4 linked regions of the Homo sapiens genome follow. The protein of the gene in region 4 purifies or fractionates together with the protein of the main gene of each other region. This does not show direct contact. Each region holds a gene or a part of one and is shown on either strand. Other genes may lie near its edges.

The links. The genes of interacting proteins can lie anywhere in the genome.
Region 1: the proteins of TMED6 (region 4) and ALG9 purify together in Homo sapiens (affinity purification with mass spectrometry; 2 studies listed by BioGRID and IntAct, with this or other methods). This does not show direct contact.
Region 2: the proteins of TMED6 (region 4) and ITGA6 purify together in Homo sapiens (affinity purification with mass spectrometry; 2 studies listed by BioGRID and IntAct, with this or other methods). This does not show direct contact.
Region 3: the proteins of TMED6 (region 4) and CNTNAP3B purify together in Homo sapiens (affinity purification with mass spectrometry; one large-scale study listed by BioGRID and IntAct). This does not show direct contact.

What each region holds. Positions count from the first base shown.
Region 1 is NC_000011.10:111,844,013-111,847,583, forward strand, and holds part of ALG9 (alpha-1,2-mannosyltransferase ALG9), read right to left. Parts: intron 712-3,571; coding exon 589-711; intron 1-588. UniProt on the Homo sapiens protein: Mannosyltransferase that operates in the biosynthetic pathway of dolichol-linked oligosaccharides, the glycan precursors employed in protein asparagine (N)-glycosylation.
Region 2 is NC_000002.12:172,503,771-172,507,028, reverse strand, and holds the end of ITGA6 (integrin alpha-6 isoform b preproprotein), read right to left. Parts: exon of another isoform or gene 2,939-3,258; coding exon of another isoform or gene 2,777-2,938; 3' UTR 570-2,776; downstream 1-569. UniProt on the Homo sapiens protein: Integrin alpha-6/beta-1 (ITGA6:ITGB1) is a receptor for laminin on platelets. Integrin alpha-6/beta-1 (ITGA6:ITGB1) is present in oocytes and is involved in sperm-egg fusion.
Region 3 is NC_000009.12:41,892,663-41,895,428, forward strand, and holds part of CNTNAP3B (contactin-associated protein-like 3B precursor), read right to left. Parts: intron 1,449-2,766; coding exon 1,327-1,448; 3' UTR 1-1,326.
Region 4 is NC_000016.10:69,342,730-69,345,819, reverse strand, and holds the end of TMED6 (transmembrane emp24 domain-containing protein 6 precursor), read left to right. Parts: intron 1-2,179; coding exon 2,180-2,413; 3' UTR 2,414-2,570; downstream 2,571-3,090.

The DNA.
Region 1 (3,571 bases), on a different chromosome or scaffold from region 4:
TTTTTTTTGAGATGGAGTTTTGCTCTTGTCGCTCAGCTGGAGTGCAGCGGCGCAGGGTCTTGGCTCACTACAACCTCTGCCTCCTGGGTTCAAACGATTCTCCTGCCTCAGCCTCCCTAGTAAGTGGGATTACAGGCATCCACCACCATGTCTGGCTAATTTTTGTATTTTTAGTAGAGATGGGGTTTCACCACGTTGGCCAGGCTGGTTTTAATTCCTGACCTCAGGTGATCCACCCGCCTCGGCCTCCCAAAGTGCTGGGATTACAGATGTCAGCCACCGCGCCCGGCCTCCTTCTGAGATTTTATAAATATTTTTACTTCCCTGGGTGATTGTGTAAATTATATTGACTTCCTCACTTAAAGCAATAATAAAGCTCTTCCTCCTGTCAATTTAATTTGCCACAATTCACCAAATCTTCACAAGGGTTCAATGGATCAACAAACACAGACTGAAAATTCAGTAAGCCAACCATTTCCATAGGAAGAATGTGGAAAATAAAGTAAGTAGGATTTTCCTTCAGTTCTTGGTATACACCATTACTTGCTCTTTCCTCCCAAAACACCTACCATCTCTTATGCCACTCACCATGAAATCTCTGCAGCAGGTATTCCATAAGAGAAGTCAGTGGTAGGACTAGGAGAGCCAAAGCAAAGGCTACATTGAAATTCAGAAATCCATTAATTAAATAGAAATACCAGGGTTCTGTACCTGAGGGAGACATAAAGGTAAGAAATCATTAGTGGATGCCTTTAACACCTATTACGGTGCTTGACATATAATGTTCTTTGTTGGAATAACACTGATGATCCTATGCCTCATGGGAATGAGAGTGCACAGCCCACTCTTCCCATGCTAAGCTACACAAAAGAAGCACAAGAGCGAGATGGAAGAGAATGGGATTGGTCATGAGGATTTAGGGAGAAATCAAGTTTCAAATAGTTAGCTGTATTTTCTATACTGACCACTATATCTAGCCCAAATTGCTATGCCCCAATGGAACTAATACTTTTGAGAAGCACCAAATAATTTAAATCGCTTTAGAGCCACATAGGGCTAAAATAATAAAACTGCCATTTCAATTTAACTATTCTCTCAAGATCGCGCAGACCAAAGGAAAGAGTGATAAAAAAACTTAGTTGGTGGCTGGGTGTGGTGGCTCATGCCTGTAATCCCAGCTACTAGGAAGGCTGAGATGGGAGGATTGCTTGAGCCCAGGAGGTTAAGGCTGCAGTGGGCTGTGGTCGTGCCGCTGCACTCCAGCCTGGGCGACACAGTGAGACCCTGTCTCAAATAAAAATAAAAATAAGGAACTTAGTTTGAGCTATTCAGGCATCTCCCATTTTGTTTTCATCTGCTTGTCCCATTTACATTCTAGCATCTTTCCCCTTGATATGCTCAACCACTTATAGTCGCGTACATTGGGCAACATGTGTTTGGTATAAAGCAACAACCCGTTTTTCTTAGATCATGTTCAGAGGCCCAGGCCTTGCTGAGAAGCTTTAAGGATTCAGAATGAAGCAAAATCACTAAAAACACAAGTCTTACTCACACTATTTTTTATTCTTTAACTCAAAATCCTTACACCCAAATGATGAGAAACAGACCCCCTCTGCACATTTAGCAGGTTTTTCATCTGCTTTTCCCCTCTGTATGATTACTTCAATCAAGAAGTGAATGACACATGCGGGTTTTAATCACTGTGTGTTGTGACACCCGCCTTGCACCATAGCAATTTCCTGCAATCAGCATTGCTTAAAAGGGTAATCAGAAGGCAGAGGAATAGTCAGAAAAACCTGACATTCTTGCAGCTTGCACAGCAAAATAAGATTAGAAACCAAACCCATAATGCTAGAAACATTTAGGGGAGAAGTAAGAGGGAGGGAGGTTACACTAAGGAAAAGTTCAAGTTCAACTGTGCGTCACCTTTGGGGGAAGCTCACTCCTTCCTGTCTCAATACAATGATAGAGAATATTCATGAACAGAGGTCCTATTCCAGGCCCAGTTCATTAGGGACATTTTAATCTTGTATTCTTTACAAATATGCATTTGGGTTATAGAAAACTAACGGATGGTTTTATTTTCAAATCAAAAATGTCTTTTCTGAATCTTAATTAGAATTTAACAACATTATTTTTTAAACTGAGTCCTTTAGGATCCAATTTCCAGAGAGGTAAGCTTTTGCACAATCCTCTCCTGACCACCAGTGCGGAAGCAGGGCTAGCAACCTCTGACTCACCTTTTTCTTAACAGGATTCTGGAAATCTGAGCTTGTGAAGAAAAACCATAGAGTGACCAGACAGAAAAGGGGTTATCCTTTCTATTATCTATTACAGATGTCAAGCACCAATAGGAAAAAGCCACTTGTCTCTTTCATATTTGCAAATACAGACTGTTTTTTTCAGGAAAGCACTTTAGCTTCCAGAAAATATTTGTCTCTAACACAATTTACTATACCCTCCTGTTACAGCTATCTTTTTATCTAGGTATACTGTACTCTGAGATGAGGAAACAAAAGTATTAAGCTGGTAAATGCAATCATTTTTATGTATTCAGAGCTCATAAATCAAGTTTCCAACTAGGCTGTGAACATTTCATAACAGACTGTTATTTCCCTGAAAGATGGGGCAAAAATTGGGGGATAAGCCAAAAGTGAAGAAGGTTCAAGTGTCAACAGTCTTAAAAACAAGGGCAAAAGGGAACAAAAAGAGTGACTTCTATCAGCCAGAGTCCTCCCCTGCTTGATGACACATCTGCCTTAGGAAAGCAAAGGGTATAAACTTTTATCTCTTTTCAGGGAGATATTCAATGCTGCTGCTCAGAAAACATCAGAGCTGAACTATGCAAAAAACCATGTCAGAATGACAAGCTAAACGCTGAACTGGTGCAAGATGTTTAGGTGAAGGAAAGCTGGCAGCAGGGTCTCTGCAGGGAGTGACTCACCCATCCTCCTCTTTATGGAAAGTGCCTCAAGTCCTTTCAATCAAATGAGCTAAGGGAAGCTTTCAAAGAAGCTAAAAGAAGGGATAATGTTTACTGCTCCATAGATTGAATGAAGGAGAACTACTTCCCAAAGTTATAATTTTATAGACCTGTAGGAACTAAATCATAGTAAGACATCCTTATAAATGTCAAATTTGTACCACCGAGAGGGAAAAGCCACTAAGTTCAAGAGAAATGATTAACAAAAGAGCAAAGGCTCTAGAACAGTTCTGGCTGGCAGTGAATTCTAAGCAGGACTGATAAGACCCCACTGGGGCTTCTTCCTCTGCCACTGCAATTATGGAAACCTGTGGGCCTCCCAACAGAGGGCATTTGCGGGTATCGTCTGAAACTTTCCATCCAGTGATCAGACAGATGTTGATAAAACACATAAACAGGCAATGGGATCCTGTCCTAAGCTGCAAAGTGGCAACCTGAGCAGATTCACTGTTCTTTCTGAGGCAAGAGTATTTCCTGTAAGTGTATTCCCATGCCTTCTCCAGGCCTGTGCACTCCTCAGCAGAGAGCACCACTCTTCACTCACCAGACAAAAATACTTGCCAGCATCAACATCTGAGAACTTGAAAT
Region 2 (3,258 bases), on a different chromosome or scaffold from region 4:
AAATCATTAAGTGCCAATCAATCACATATTTCTTTGGGTGGTAACACCTGTTTGATCTTCAAAGAACCAAGAAGGCCAAGATTTTATGTAATGCCAAGTATAGTGGAGAGCTATTACCTAATATATTAGACAGACATTTATTCAGGCCAGGGCACACTATATTGTCTAGGCATTTTATATATATATATGTGTGTGTGTGTGTGTGTGTGTGTGTGTATATACGTATATATGTATATATATATTTATATATATTTATATATTTATATTTATATATATTTATATATTTATATATTTTATTTTCTTGTATTAGGTTGTGATAATCCAGCTAGAGAAGTTTCATAAAACTCAAATCTAAAATCTTTCTTTTGCTGAAGAAAATATTTTCTGACTAGTTGATTCTGCCACACACGTCACAGCTAGCCTGCTCCCACATCCAAAACATATTCTAAGAAGGAAGCAGCTTAGCTGTCAGAATTTTTTTTAATGCCAGGTTATCATTGCTAAGCAATTCCCTATCCTTACAAGGACAGGCAGTGAAGAGGAGGATTCAGTCCAAAGACAACTCCCAATTTGTAGGTTGTTAAATACCTGTAGGTTTCTTTTAATCATAAAGAAGGAAAATGAAAGACTTGAGGATCACCTACATAGAGCGAAAACAGAAAAAAACCCCGAATCCCATTGCTTTGGCACTAGTATCTTTGGCTGATCTGAGATTACATGAGACACCAAAAATAAAAACACTGAACTTTGGTTTGATGAAATAGATAATTCAGGTTGTCATTTATAATTTTAGAGTTTGCTTCACATATACAATGCTGTGTTACGAAACAATGAACACTTTTATAAAAAATTTATTTCACACTTTTATACAAATATCCACAGGTAATTTCTAATCATGAAATAATTTTACAATGCTAGTTAGTACAAAAATGTATCAAATGCAAACAGACCAGTGACTTGACTTGAGATGACATTTTTAACAACCATAAATCTAAACACCATAACATCTTTGTTTCTTTGTTGAACCACCCTCCCAACACCCTTTTCAGGACATTCATCTTTTTTTTAGTAACACAGGTCTAAAAACACTGTCAAAGTATCAGCTCCTTAGCAATCTAGCAATCTAAACACATTAGGGACACAAGTTCCCCAAGCAAGAAACTGAGACTTTAAACACTGTTATAACCTGTTTTACAGAAATTTTTGTAAACAAAATATATTTTGTGACTAAGAATTCCAAAGTACAACCAAAACAACGTCCTTAGTATCTTAAGGTTTAAGATTTCCGAAAAGAAAAAAGCCCCCCCAAAACAACAGTGGCACTACAAACTGTGTTCTATTCTTTCAAAACACAGACACTGCTTATACTATATCCAAAACAAATTAGCACCTGTTTGCTGTTGCTCCCCATATAACTTAACATTGTGAAGCATGGTAATTAAAAAAAATCAGCTTTCATATCTATTCAGTCTCTGTTGAATGTATAGAGTAATAATTCCACCCCCTGCCATTTTTACAATTAAAACACAATTTAAAGTTCTTGTTAAATTAGCCCCAAAGTAATTTTTGGGAATACAGATAGGGGAGGAAACAAAACAAAAAATAGAACATCGACTCACTGATTAACTGTTTTGGTAGCAGATTCAGTAGTCTTATACTGGATCAGTTTGGATCCACCATAGGCATTCACCATTTCTTTCAAGTCCTGAATATACAGTATTTGCAGCAGTGAGTAAACCGCACTAGAGTTCAGTGAATAAACCCATTTTCTCCAAGAATTCCTGAATGTTACAGTATGAAATCCAGAAACATTATGCAGGCTTCTAAAGTAAAAAATATCCAATGCCTGAAATAAACATCTTTACAGTTATAATTCTATTTCTTAAACCTTTTGGGTTGTGGGGTGGAGGCTGTCATGAAGGAGAGGTTATAGTTTATAGATAAGTTATTAAAACAACTCTCTCTGGTACATTTATAAAGATTTTCTTTTTGCAGTAAATAATTTAGGTCAAAGTGATGACCTCCCATGCTCTAATTCTGATTGATTAAACCAACCTGAAGGGTAAACTGGAGACTCTTTGGCCTGTTAGTCAATAACAAAATGGTTTGTAAAGAAAAGAAAAAATAAATACCATATACAAATAAGTATAACTAGCATTCAAGTCTGTTGCACCTGTGTGTTTTAGTGAAAGGGAGAATGAAACTTGTATGCATTTGACGTGAGCAGGTATTCACACAGCTAGGAAACAGGAAAAGACGGTAGGATGGCAACATCACCTTCTATTGCACATTTAGTTTAAGACAGCACTTTCCGTTGAAACACAACTACCCCAATGGCATAGTCTTGTGATGTGGGACAGCTAACGTGATGGACGTCTGCGCAGCAGGCCCGAGGTTAGGACGGCCACTCTGTTAGTGCAGGTGAGTGTAGGTGCCTCCTCAGCTACACTATCTGGAGGATGTCACCTGAGTGCAACTGGGCAGGCCCTTCCCCAACACATGATGTAAGTCAGCCACGCCAAAAATAAAGGCAACCCAGAAAGTTAAATTACGGCAGTTAAAGAAAAATCCATTCCAACAGTTTTAAATTTGGCTGTGCAAAACAGGAGCCTTAGGCTACGTAACAATATCCACAGTTAAAACTGTAGGTTCGTACTGTGTGTAGTCACTCTGAAATCAGTCCTCAGGGATTGAGCAGGCTTTTAAATCCAAATTGAATTTCTGAGTTGGAAAAAGCAGTTTGGGTACTGTGAAGCTTTTTTTTTTTAGGCCCCCGCTATGAGTAGCTTTCATTTTCGTTCCACTTTGTGATCCACTGTTTTTTTTCAAGGTTATCAATATACTTTTCATCTTTGATCTCTCGCTCTTCTTTCCGGATCCTTACAGCATGGTATCGGGGAACACTGTCATCGTACCTAGAGCGTTTAAAGAATCCACACTAGAGAAGAGGGAAAGAGAAAGAGAAACAAATTAATCTCACAAAGAAGCAAATACACTAAATGGGAATGTCTAAGCTTTCTGTTCAGCTATGTCTACCTCTGGACTAAGGGGAAAAAGACATGGTTTTCTTTTAAGAAAGAACCAAGAGGCTGAAATGAAAGAAGAGCCAGTGGGGATCAACGGAAGAGAACAGCTGTAAAACTGGAAGAAAAGTCCATTTTCATCTTCTCTTTACATTTTATAACAAATGTAGGCTACCTCTTTACTAACAATTTAAGAGTTTATGAAAACAGTGCTTCCATATTTAAAAATAATCAC
Region 3 (2,766 bases), on a different chromosome or scaffold from region 4:
TCAATTTTGGGTAATCTATGGGAATTTGGCCCCATGGTCATAAACCTTTGATCAGACTGGCAGATTTAATAAACATCATGTAAATGTTAACTTAACTTGGAGTGAACAGCCTTCAGTTTACATTCCAAAAGTGATTAGATGAAAGGATAATACACAATGATATTTATGCCTAGAGCAGTTCAAAATTTAGAAAAGGAATTAGTGATCTTCAGTTAAGCTATTTTTTTTAATAAATTGAAAAGATGTTCTGTACAACATAATAGAGTCATAGGAAATCAAAAGCATATCAGTAACAACTTTTAGAAAAAGAAATGAATGATGAAAAACAGATATGACCTCTCAATATCTTGGGGAAGTAAGTTAGGATGATGTTTCATTCACGTCTTAATGATATAAATAAAGGATAACTCTGTGTAAGAAGTAGTGTTTGTATCTGGTGGTAAATTTAGTTAAAAACATAATCACAAGTTACAAAAACTGTAATTACAAATTACAAAGAAAAACAGGCAGACAATCTTGTATTGACATCCTCTTGCATCTTGTTACCTACCAATGTTCTGTTCCATTATAAAATTCAATACTAAAATTTCATAGCTAACATTCAATATTAATTTCAACATTAAAATGTATCAAAATCATTAAAAACAGTCAATTAGAAAAAGCAATACACCAAAAATAATGGTAGTGTTTCCAGGCTTCAACTGTGTTGTATTAACCATCACACAGGAGAATAAAAGGGCTGTGAATTTTAGATAGGCCACTTGGCTCTGGATTCCAGGACTATGGAAATGCCAGTGAAGGTAGTCCAAGAAGCATTTCTTGTTTTATAATATCAGCAGAGGACCAAAAAAAGGGATCCCAGATATGTTTTCAAGTAACAAAAAACATTAAAGTGCAATTTTGTCTTTTACATCTGAACAAAAGTTCTGTCATTTTTAAAAAATAAAGTAGGGCCACAGCTTTATAGTCATTTTCTCATCTAAAACCCCACAATTATTAACACAGATCAAACTGCAGTTTTGGAAGAGAGCCTTTGGACGGGGAAACTACTGAACAGTGATGAATGGCCATACCTAATTCATTGTTTGGAAATTGATGTGGAGGACTGTGTTTCACCGAGGGAGAAAGGGACCTCCCAGAGGCTCTGAGGCTGCAGATCTTCAGCCAGGTGACAGCACTGCACCTGCTGTGTGCACCCTGATGGCAACAGCAGGGAAGTCCACAGTCACGATGATAGAGACAGCCACAGCTGCCAATCAGAAGACTCACTCTTTCTGGTTTTCATGGACTGCGTTTTGCACATCGAGCTCACTGTTTAGAGCTGTCCTAGCACTCTTCTTTTTTTGAGACTTTTGACTCATTTTCTTTGCGTAACTTTCTCTGTTGATAGATGCGTATGGCTATGGCAGTGATGCAAAGCAAAATAAATATCTCCACTGCTATCACACCTAGGGAGAGAAAAGAATAAAACATCATAATTTTTTTTCTTTTTTCTTTTTAGAGAGAGGGTCTCACTCTGTCGCCCACGCTGGAGTGCAGTGGCATGATCACAGCTAACTGTAGCCTTGATCCTCCCAAGTAGCTGAGACTATAGGCCCACTCCACCGTTCAGCTTATTTTTTTTTTTCTTTTTACAATTATTCTTTGTAGAGATGGGGTGTTGCTATGTTGCCCAGGCTGGTCTCGAACTCCTGGGCTAAAGTGATCCTCTCACCTTGGCCTCCCAAATTGTTGGGATTACAGGTGTGAGTTACCGTGCCTGGCCTCAATGTCAGAGTATAAATGGTGACTTTTGGTCCAATCAGAGGCTTTGCAGACATCATTGCTTTTTAAGTTTGGTTAAAATAAACCAACCACCTATTATATTATAAATTGAAAACACCAAAACTCAGAAATGCTGAGGTCAAGTAATTTTATAACATTTAACATACTTCTGACGGACTATGACTTTTGGATATGGCTGTGTTAGGCTTTTTCCCTACAGGTATATGATGATTGGGTTTTAGATAATGCTTTCAGATTTAAAAGAATAGAGACATACATGTCTCTAAGACCGCGTACATCCTTCAGTTAACAAGTGGGAAATTTTAAATCATTTTACAAGTATAGAGTGTTTGCATCATCATAGATCATTACATGTTATTGTTAGTACAATGAAATGGGTACATTTTAATGAAATTGTTTTCAAATACTTTTATGATAATACACTTTTCTTTTTTTTCTGAGACGGAGTCTTGCTCTGTCGCCCAGTCTGGAGTGCAGTGGTGCGATCTCGGCTCACTGCAAGCTCCGCCTCCCAGGTTCACGCCATTCTCCTGCCTCAGGCTCCTGAGTAGCTGGGACTACAGGCGCGCGCCACAGCGCCCGGCTAACTTTTTGCATTTTTAGTAGAGACGGGGTTTCACCGTGTTAGCTAGGATGGTCTCGATCTCCTGACCTCATGATCCGTCCGCCTCGGCCTCCCAAAGTGCTGGGATTACAGGCGTGAGCCAACGCGCCCGGCCGATAATATACTTTTCAAACGCAGTAGGGTCGCATATATGTAATCAATCCCTATTACCAAAAATATTGCAGGCATATTTATTCATTTTTTTTTTACCTGGAATGTGGATTATTTGAAAGACCTGGGCAAAATGTTTTAAAATATTGAAACCATTAGCAGTGTCCATGATTCTCGACTCTAGCTGCACACTAAGTCAGTAAATCAGAATAAATGAATGGAAGGCCTGGATACCAGTATCTTTATAAATTGTTTCAGGCTTTAAT
Region 4 (3,090 bases):
CTTGTGGTCCCAGCCACTCGGGAGGCTTAGGTAGAATTGCTTGAACCCAGGATGTCAAGGCTGTGACAGTGAGACCCTATCTCAAAAAAATGAAAATCCTTTGCCCATTTTACTTTTTTTTTTTTTTTTTTTTTTTTTTTTGAGAGAGTCAGTCTGTCGTCCAGGCTGGAGTGCAGTGGTGTGATCTCGGCTCACTGCAACCTTTGCCTCCTGGGTTCAAGTGATTCACCTGCCTCAGCCTCCTGAGTAGGTGGCATTACAGCCACGTGCCACCACGCCCACCTACATTTTGTATTTTTAGTAGAGACGGGGGTTTCACCATGTTGGTCAGGCTGGTCTTGAACTCCTGACCTTGTGATCTGTCCAGCTCAGCCTCTCAAAGTGCTGGGAATACAGGCGTGAGCCACCGCACCCTGCCTGAATTGTCTTTTTATTGTTGAATTTTGTTTATATATTCTGGATACAAATCCCTCCTAAGATATGTGAGTTGCAGATATTTTCTCCCATTCTGGCAATGTCTTTTCACTTTCTTTTTTCTTTTTTGAGACGGAGTTTCATTCTGTCTCCCAGGCTGGAGTGCAGTGGCGTGATCTTGGCTCACTGCAACCTTTGCCTCCTAGGTTCAAGCGATTCTCCTGCCTCGGCCTCCTGAGTAGCTGGGACTACAGGCGTGTGCCACAATGCCCAGCTAACTTTTGTATTTTTATTTATTTATTTATTTATATTTTTTTGAGACAGAGTCTCGCTTTGTCACCTAGGCTGGAATGCAGTGGCACAATTTTGGCTCACTGCAACCTCCGCCTCCCGGGTTCAAGTGATTCTTATGCTTCAGTCTCCCAAGTAGCTGGGATTACAGGCGGGTGCCACCACGCCTGGCTAATTTTTGTATTTTTAGTAGAGATGGGGTATCACTATGTTGGCCAGGCTGGTCTTGAACTCCTGACTTCAGGTGATCTGCCCACCTTGGCCTCCCAAAGTGCTAAGATTACAGGAACGAGCCACCGTGCCCGGCCACTTTTCACTTTCTTTTTTTCTTTTTTTTTTGTTGAGACAAAGTCTTGTGCTGTCGGCCAGGCTGGAGTACAGTGGCACGATCTCAGCTCCCTGCAACCTCTGCCTCCCGGGCTCAAGCAGTTCTCCTGCCTCAGCCTCCCGAGTAGCTGGGATTACAGGCGTGTGCCACCACACCTGGCTAATTTTTGTATTTTTAGTAGAGACGGTGTTTCACCATGTTGGCCAGGCTGATCTTAAACTCCTGATCTCAGGTAATCCGCCCGTCTCGGCCTCCCAAAGTGCTGGGATTACAGGTATGAGCCACTGCACCCGGCCACTTTTCACTTTCTTAATAGTCTCTCCTAAATGCACAAAAGCTCACTGCCTGTTTTTGTAAATGGAAGTTTTCTTGAAACACAGCCATGCTCATTTGACAATTACATATTGTCTGTGGCTGCTTTTGTACTACAATGGCAAGAGTTCAGCAGTCACAGGGGCCTGCAAAGCCAAAAATATTTACCATCTGGCCTTTTAATAAAAAGTCCACAGGCCCTTGTCTTCTACCATATACAGAGAACATAAAACATCACCTGGAATGGTAACGACATGCTGAGTACATCTAAATCTAGAGGTCCTCTGGAAGAGCTCTCTAGTTTGAGTACTGAAGTTTTCCATTATTTAAAAACAAAACAAAAGGCCGGGGCAGTGGCTCATGACCATAATCCCAACACTTTGGGAGGCCAGTGTGGGTGGATCTCTTGAGCCCAGTAGTTCGAGATGAGCCTGGGCAACATGGCAAAACCCTGTCTCTACAATAAAAAAAAAAAAAAATTAGCTGGGTGTAGTGGCATGTGCCTGTAGTCCCAGCTACTAGGGAGGCTGAGGTGGGAAGATCACTTGAGCGCAGAAGGTTGAGGCTGCAGTGAGCTGTGACTGCGCCACTGTACTCCTGCCTGGGCAAACAAGTGAGACCCTGTCTCATAAAACAAAAACAAAAATTTTAAACTCAAATCCAGACCATATTTCATACATAGCAAACACAACATTTAACAACTATCATTGTATTGTACATCTTAAAATCATATGGGTAAATTATTTGACTTGAGATAGGTTAGTGCTAGTGAGCGCTCAGGTGAGGCTAGATGGGGGTTTGGAAGAATCCCCCTTAAAATTGTCTCTCTCATAGGACGGCACACAAAAGGTGCAGAACAATATCTTTCACATGTGGCGATACTACAACTTTGCCCGGATGAGGAAAATGGCTGACTTTTTCCTTATCCAATCAAACTATAACTACGTGAACTGGTGGTCGACAGCCCAGAGCCTTGTTATTATTCTTTCTGGGATCCTGCAACTGTATTTCTTGAAGCGTCTCTTCAATGTTCCAACAACTACAGATACAAAGAAGCCAAGATGCTAAGCTAAGGTGACTATAGCACCCTGGCTGTTTTCTTCTGGGGCTTAGTCGAATCAGCTTTGTAATGTTATGGGACAAAAATCAATTATCTCATTAATGTTTTAGTCTGCTGCACACATCTAAAAAAGCAAAATGGCAATAAAATCATAACAGTGAAAAAGTTCTGAAGAAGTATGTATTAAATGTATGCATCAAAATACTGTTCATCATATAGCAGTCCCTTAGCCTTCACTGAGTCTACTTAGAGGCTAACAGAAAACCTTAGAAGGAAGATGAGTTGAAAAAGGCCACAATCAAGTTTGCTTACATATAAAAGCAGGAGTTGGTAATGTTTTATTCTTAAAGACTTCACCTTTGGAACTTAAAATAAGCAATATATTCATTAAAGAAATAGTTTAATTTTGCAATACAGATAGTCTTTAAATTTTTTGTCTATAAAATATTTAAAGAAATATTCTAAGGATCTTAAAGTAACTTTGGGAGGCACGGGGAAGGACAAAGGGACTGAATTTTTATGTCGTGGCCTCTGATCAGTGCTTTTAGTCCAATCCAGTCAAGTAAGTAAAGGTTCATAGAAAAAATTGTTTTATAAAATCATAGTGATGAAAAAAACTTTCCAGCCTAGCGTCATCCCATCCAAGAAAAATACTGAGAAAACAGCTTGTAAAAAAGAAGGTAAT